Homo sapiens: one gene and its partner. The protein of the gene in region 1 purifies or fractionates together with the protein of each later gene. This does not show direct contact. Each region holds a gene or a part of one and is shown on either strand. Other genes may lie near its edges.

Region 1 (4,391 bases):
CATGAGGGGGAAGGATCTGAGGGGCGAAGGATCTGAGGGGGGAAGGCTCTGAGGGGGGAAGGCTCTGAAGGGGAAGCTCTGAGGGGGGAAGGACATGAGGGGGAAGGATCTGAAAGGCGAAGGATCTGAGGGGGGAAGGATCTGAGCGGGGAAGGCTCTGAGGGGGGAAGGCTCTGAGGGGGGAAGGACATGAGGGGGAAGGATCTGAAAGGCGAAGGATCTGAGGGGGGAAGGATCTGAGCGGGGAAGGCTCTGAGGGGGGAAGGCTCTGAGGGGGGAAGGCTCTGAGGGGGGAAGGACATGAGGGGGAAGGATCTGAAAGGCGAAGGATCTGAGGGGGGAAGGATCTGAGCGGGGAAGGCTCTGAGGGGGGAAGACTCTGAAGGGGAGGCTCTGAAGGGGAAGGACATGAGGGGAAGGATCTGAGGGGCGAAGGATCTGAGCGGGGAAGGCTCTGAGGGGGGAAGGCTCTGAGGGGGAGGCTCTGAGGGGGAAGGACATGAGGGAGAAGGATCTGAGGGGCGAAGGATCTGAAGGGGGAAGGATCAGGGGAGGAAGGATTTGGAGGTGGCAGCTTCTGCGTGGGGAAAGAACTGAGGGGGAAGGATCTGCGTGGGCGAGAGTGCGGCCGGTGAACGAGGGCTGGGTAGGGGATGGGGGAGGCCACTCTGAGCCGGAAGGAGCTAGGCGAGGGGAGACAGGGCCCCCAGTCCTGGACCTGGCCACGCGCTTTGGGGCCCTAACCCGTGCCCCTCGTTGTTGTGTGTTCATCGCAGGCGACCCTGTGCCTGCCGGGCCTTTCTGGAAGAGGCCGTGCGGTGTCCCCCAGACCACCCACCCCGGGCTGAAGACTCTTCCTGAGGTGGGTTCCCACGTGGCCCGGGCAGGGGCAATGGGCACTCGGCGGGCGAGGTTTCACGGTGCAGCCAGCGTCCGTGTGTGTGCAGGCGGAGACGGACGAGGCGCCACGGGGCTCAGATACAGGAGCGATCGGTGGAAGCAGAGTCGGAGCAGCGGAGGGCCGAGAGGCCGGGGAATGACGTGGTTGTGGGGCGAGGGCAGCCAGCGCCGGGGCTTGAGGTGGAGCTTGGCCCGCGGGGGTGGGGGTGCCGCTGAGGAGGAGGGGTCGGGGGTCTCCCCGGAGCGGACGCCCAGAGCAAGCCCAGCCTCTCTACAGACGGGCGAGGGGGAGGCGGAGAAGGGGGCGCAGTCCCGCACCAGGGCCCGCAGCGCCATAGGGTAGGGCCACGCCCCGGAGGGCCCGCGCCAGGAGTCTCCGCCCGAACCCCCGCTCGGGCAGGACCCCCGCCAGGAGGAGCTGCGCTTGAGGGGTCCCCTTCGAGCCAAACTTCAAATCCAACTCCTCGGACGGCCAATTTACGTCATCGCGGGTTTCCATGGCAACGCAGACAGGCCCGAGACGCGTCTTCAGGAAGAAAAAGCCATTGGGGGCCCACTGGAGCCTCGCTTCTGGTTCCGGGCCCAGCGCCCCGGGCGGAATGCGGGGTTGGAAAGGGGGGACTAGCCTGTGTGTGGGGTCCAACCCCCCCACCCCACACACCAGACCTTCCCTTTGCATTGCTGCGTCATGGGGGCCTCCTCCCACGGATGACACGCGGCTCGTGGAACTGGGGGGCCGCCTCTGCTTCTCCTCCCGGCCCCTCCCTGCACCTGCGCTGTCGCGGCATCTTCTGCGGGTCCCCTGCGCCCCACCCGCCGCGCTCTGGCAGGGAGGCAGTGCCCGGCTCCTGTCTCTGGGGCGGGGAAGGCGTGGGATGCTGATGGCAGATGGGTGGGGGCGCGGGTGAGTGAGGCCGTGCAGATGGACAGATGGATGGCGGGGGCGGGGGTGCAGGCTCTCAGTCGAAAGTCCACGGAAGCTCGGCTGGAGGTCACGTCACAGACTCGCTTCCGCATGCGCCCCCCCCAACCATGGAATGCTGCGTCACGCTGGGGGGTGCGCGCAGGTGGGCTTGTGCGGGCCGGGCACCAGCGCGTGTGACTGCGGATCTGAGGGTCCCGCCCAGCCCCCGCGGGCGCCACCGCAGCCTCCCGCCCCTGGCGCTGCAGGGGGCTGTGGCTGCCCCGCTTATTAAAAGGCAGCTGCACTGCGGGGTCGGCGCAGCCCCTCGGAGGGGAGTGGGCGCGCAGCTGCTCCCGCTTCCAGCCCAGCCACCTGTGGCCCCGCACCCGAGCCTGCTGCAGGTGGTTCCGGAGCCGCGCCCCTCCCGGCCTCCTGGCCACCTCTTGCCTGTCACGCAGACGCCCCCATCAAGCCCACCGCCCACCCCCAACCCCCGTGCGGGCAGCGGCTCCTCGGTGCTCTGGTCCGACGCCCCTTCTGTCGCCCTCCCCACCCCGCCTCCGGCGGACAGAGCTGGGCGGGAGCTGGGACTGGTACCCCCTCCCCACCTCGGAGACACCCTTAACTCCAGGCTGCGATCCTCGTGCCGGGGCCCCGCCGTCACGGGAAGCCTGGAGACCACCGCCCTCGGGTCCGCGGGGTCGGACTGGCCTGGGGCAGCCAGAGGAGGCCCGAGGGAGGAGGGCGGCCGTGCAGCGCGCCCTGCACACTCGCACCCGCACACGCGCCTCGCACACACGCACTCACACCCTCATCCGCACGCGCGCCACGCACAAGCGCACTCGCGAGCACACGCACCTCGCACACACACCCGCACACGCGCCTCGCACCCCCGCACCCCTTCGGGCCCCCCGCCCACATTCTGCAAGAAATGTGGAAATAGCTCACAGGCGGCTCCACTGGCAGCTGCTGCAGGACGCGGTCGGGGAGGACGACGATGCGGATGTGGATGCGGAGGATGCGGTTCCAGACGCTTCGCGGCCGGGCGGGGCGGGGGCTGCAGCTGCGAGACCGAGGCTGTGGTCGCCATGGAAACGCGGCTAGAGGCGGGGCCTCGACTCTGGTCCCGCACCCTCTACCCCCACCCACCGCCCCGGCTAGGGAGCCGCGCATGCGCCCCTCAGACCCTGCTCGGGCCTCACCACACACCTCATACACACACCTGATGCACACACACCTGACACATCCCCAGAAACCACACCTCGAACACCAGACACATCCAAACACACACCTCACACACATCCCAGACACACACCTCACACAAACACCCCCCACACACACACCTCACAAACACCCCAAACACCTGACACACACACACCCCAGAATCACACATCTCGAACACCAGACACATCCAAACACACCCCAGACACACACACCCCAGACACACACCCAACACACACCCGACACACACACCACACACACCTCACACACACCCCAGACACACACACACCTGACACACCCGACACACCCCCAGAATCACACACCTCAAACACCACATTCAAACACACACCTCACACACACCCGACACACACCTGACACACACGTGACACACACACCTGACACACCCCCAGAAACATACACCTGACACACACCTCACACACACCCAACAACACATATACCTGATACACACCCCAGGCACACATTTGACACACACACCCCACACACCTGACACACATACCCCAGAAACACCTCAAACAACAGATACATCCAAACACACACCTCACACACACCTGACACACACACCCTAGTAATACACACATCAAATACCAGACATCCAAACACACATCTCACACACACCTCAGACACACACACAGCTGACACACACCTGACAGCCCCCAGAAACACACATTTCAAACACCAGACACATCCAGACACACACCTCACACACACCCCAGACACACACACACCTGAGACACACCCCACACACCTAACCCGCACCCCACACACCTGACCCACACCCCAGAAACACACATCTGACACACACCCCAGACACACACACCTGACACTCTCCCCAGAAACACCTCAAACACCAAATACATCTAAACACACAATTCACACACACCCCAGATATACCTCACACACACACCCCAGACATACCTCACACACACACACCTGACACCCCAGAAACACACCTCACACACCAGACACACCCACACATCTCACATACACGACACGCACCTGACACCCACCCCAGAAACACACATCTCACACACCAGACACCCAAACACACCTCACACACACCCCTGACACACACCCCACACCTGACACACACACCTGACCCACACCCCAGAAACACACACCTTAAACAGCAGAAACACCCAAACACACCCCCCCACACACCTGACACACCTGATGCCCATCTGACACATACCCCAGAAACACACCAGACACACCCAAACACACTCACCTCAAACACATCCCTGACACACACACACCACACACCTGACATACACACACCTGACCCACACCCCAGACACACACCTGACACACACCCCAGAAATACACACCTCACACACCAGACACACCC
Region 2 (3,228 bases), on another chromosome or scaffold:
AATAGGTCATGGAAGGAATCCCAGAGAAGGAAACTCTCTTTATCCAGAGAGAGGGCGAAAGAAGTTTGTCAGGAGGACGAATGGAGAAGGGAGTTCCAGTAAAACAGAACAAGGGCAGGGATATGTAGCAAGCACAATATTGTGCTTCCTGAGATATGTGGATGACTGAATGTTGTATGCAGGATGATTCTAGGATCAAGCATTAAATAACATTGAACAAAACCATAGAAGTAACTGCTCTATCAACTCCCTCTCAATCCTGGCTAACTCAGGGAATAAATCTTTCTGTGCTTCCCCAAAATATTTTCTATCTCTCTAACACTTTCTGAACTCCCTTTGTGTCAAACAGAGAACAGGCTTATTGCTCAGACCTTTGAGCAGGCAACAGTATCTGGTTAGAACTTAATAACTTTGTTTCATTTTTATTATATTTATTTTTACAGTTTCATTTTTATTATGGCAACTGATAGCAGTTTTCCATTCGCAGCATTGATACCAAGTTTTAGTTGAAATTACTTTATTGTAGTTAAAAATGTAGTCAATTAAAAATAAACACTATGCAAAAAATAATACAGGTGGTACATGAATATGTCAATAATCATAAAGTTCGTAGGCCAATGACTAGGGTTTCATAAACACTGGTGTGGTGTATTGGGGAACTAGAAAACCATAAAATCAGACTGAAGAATGAAGGCTGGAGACAAGTTATGAGTGACAGAAGCCAGATTGTGAAGGGCCTCCTATGTCAGGTGGGGAGCCATGGAGGGGCCGTAACCAGGAGATTGACACAATAAGTTCTGCAAGTTAGACACAGTCTTCTAGCATGATGTGAAGGATGGCCCAGGGGAGTGAAAGGAAGTAGATGAGTCAGGAGACAAATGGATCCTAGTGACAGATGCTGATAAGAGCATAAACAAGAGCCGAAGCAGTGAGGCTGTGAAGGAGGGTGTGGACTTGTGTGACCTGTCAGTGGTACAATCACCATTGTCACCAATTAGATGTGGAGGGAGAAATCTAGACTATTGCTCAGGTCTGGCTTGATCAGTGGGTGAAATGTGGCTCCACTAACCAGATGAGGAGATGTTTCCCCTTACTTGCTCCTTTGCTTGGTAACTGACATGATTTTGACCCCGAGTGGAACCCTTCATCTCACTGACTCTGCATTAATAGCTCAATAGGAAGGATTCAAGTTCCTTCCCTTCACAGTCCTGGCTAGAGATCTAACACCTCAGGCAAACAGAGCAGAATCCAAAATGTGTGGTGGATTAGCATATTTTCATGTTGTGAAAGAAAAGTTTTTGGTCAAGCAAATCATGGAAAAGATGAAACACCATGGGACTCTGCCCTAGAACTTTCTAAAGGGCCACCACTAATCAAAGAGGACTTTCTAGTTCAATACAATTTCTCTAAATTCTTTCTAACTCCAATAATTTCTGACTGAATTTCTGTTCACAGTCTGAAATTGTGTGGTCTTCCGACTTCAGAACTTTTGAAATCAGAGGTATCAGTGAAGGGAAGAGCTGGGAAGATAAGGGTTATAAACTAAGGAGGTACTAAAGGAGGCCTTTGTTTTGCAAAAAAATAAAAAATAAAAAGTAAAGGGAGAATGGAATCTTTGTGGGGGAGACTCTTGAGTGAGGGCAGAATCATCTCGTTGTTGGAAGGTACCTGGTTACAGGGGGTTGGGTAGTTTGGAGTAGGTGGCTGTCATGCACAGCATTTTCTCTCTTTCTTATTCTTAATGGTGAAGAGAACCTGGGATCCAAGATAAAATTGTCTGTGTTATCTGAGGAGCCACAAAAGTACAAATCAAGGAAGCCCCTTCCTCTGAAGAAGATGAAAAGTTCACTTTAGGCTCAACTGGGAGAAACTAGAAGTCCTCTGCTGTTGAAGCAACTCACTTCAAGACAAGGGCTCCTCCAGTAAGGCAAAAAAGAATCATCATCTAGGGACCAGAAGACAAGTATTAGCTTAACTCATGATAATAATTAGAAAGGTGCAAAGTTTACATCTATAATATTATTTCTTTAATATAAAAATAATAAAATGTCCTCATGAATTATATTTATGATGAGCTAGAGTTATGATTGTTTTCAATAAAAAGTTTTTCATTTAAATGAAGGATAAGGAACAGAAAGTTTTATTAGACTCTCCTGCCATTAACAAAGCCTATATTACAAGCCTGATGATTGATATCAGAGTTTAAGTCACTTCCACCTTGGATGTAGTATGGAGTTTGAAGGGATTGAATCCAAATAGGCTAAATCCGTAAATTATTAATTGCTTCATACCCAGGATGAGAAAAAAAAATTCTGTTTTATGCATGGAGTAAAGAGTGAAGAGGACGTGAGGAATTATTGGATGGATCATGGGAGCTATGTGGTTTCTCACATTTAGAATTTAATCTGAAACCAGAGCCGTCTAATTTGGTCACTCTGCAGACTTTTGGTGGGATTTTATATATATATATATATATATATATATATATATATATATATATATATACATATTTTTTTTTTTTTTGAGACGGAGTTTCACTCTTGTCACCAAGGCTGGAGTGCAATGGCGTGATCTCAACTCACTGCAACCTCTGCCTCCCAGGTTCAAGTGATTCTCCTGCCTCAGCCTCCCGAGTAGCTGGGATTACAGGCATGTGCCACCACGCCCGGCTAATTTTTGTAATTTTAATAGAGACGAGGTTTCACCATGTTGGTCAGGCCAGTCTCAAACTCCTGACCTCAGGTGATTTGCCTGCCTAAGCCTCCCAAAGTGCTGGGATTACAGTCATGAGCCACCGTGCCAGGCCTATATATATATATATATATATATATTTTTTTTTTAAAGAAATGGAATATGTCTGAACATCCTGTGTAGAAACTAAGACAAACAGATATACTGTCGATCTAAGATCATTTTTGTTCATTCTTCTAGATGTTTGCAATGATGTTTGGAGGTAGTATTATTAAAACTCTACAGAGTCATGGTTTAGTAAATTTCTGTAAAATTATATTAATAATAAAACACTAATGTAATAAGCTGCTAAAAATCAGAGTTAACATGAAATGGTATGGCTGCATAAGAAGCAAGCTGAACTTATACTGCATCAAAAAAACAAACATAAAGTTATGGGTGGTGGCTCATGCCTGTAATTCCAGCACTTTGGGAGGCCGAGGCAGGAGGATCACTTAAGGCCAGGAATTGAAGACCAGCCTGGGCAACATAGCGAGA

Evidence for each region. The genes of interacting proteins can lie anywhere in the genome.
Region 2: the proteins of CALY (region 1) and NRG1 purify together in Homo sapiens (affinity purification with western blotting, with the first as the bait; one study listed by BioGRID). This does not show direct contact.

Annotation. Positions count from the first base shown.
Region 1 is NC_000010.11:133,334,082-133,338,472, forward strand, and holds the start of CALY (neuron-specific vesicular protein calcyon), read right to left. Parts: upstream 2,816-4,391; 5' UTR 2,753-2,815; intron 1-2,752. UniProt on the Homo sapiens protein: Interacts with clathrin light chain A and stimulates clathrin self-assembly and clathrin-mediated endocytosis.
Region 2 is NC_000008.11:32,771,319-32,774,546, reverse strand, and holds the end of NRG1 (pro-neuregulin-1, membrane-bound isoform isoform HRG-alpha proprotein), read right to left. Parts: 3' UTR 501-3,228; downstream 1-500. UniProt on the Homo sapiens protein: Direct ligand for ERBB3 and ERBB4 tyrosine kinase receptors. Concomitantly recruits ERBB1 and ERBB2 coreceptors, resulting in ligand-stimulated tyrosine phosphorylation and activation of the ERBB receptors.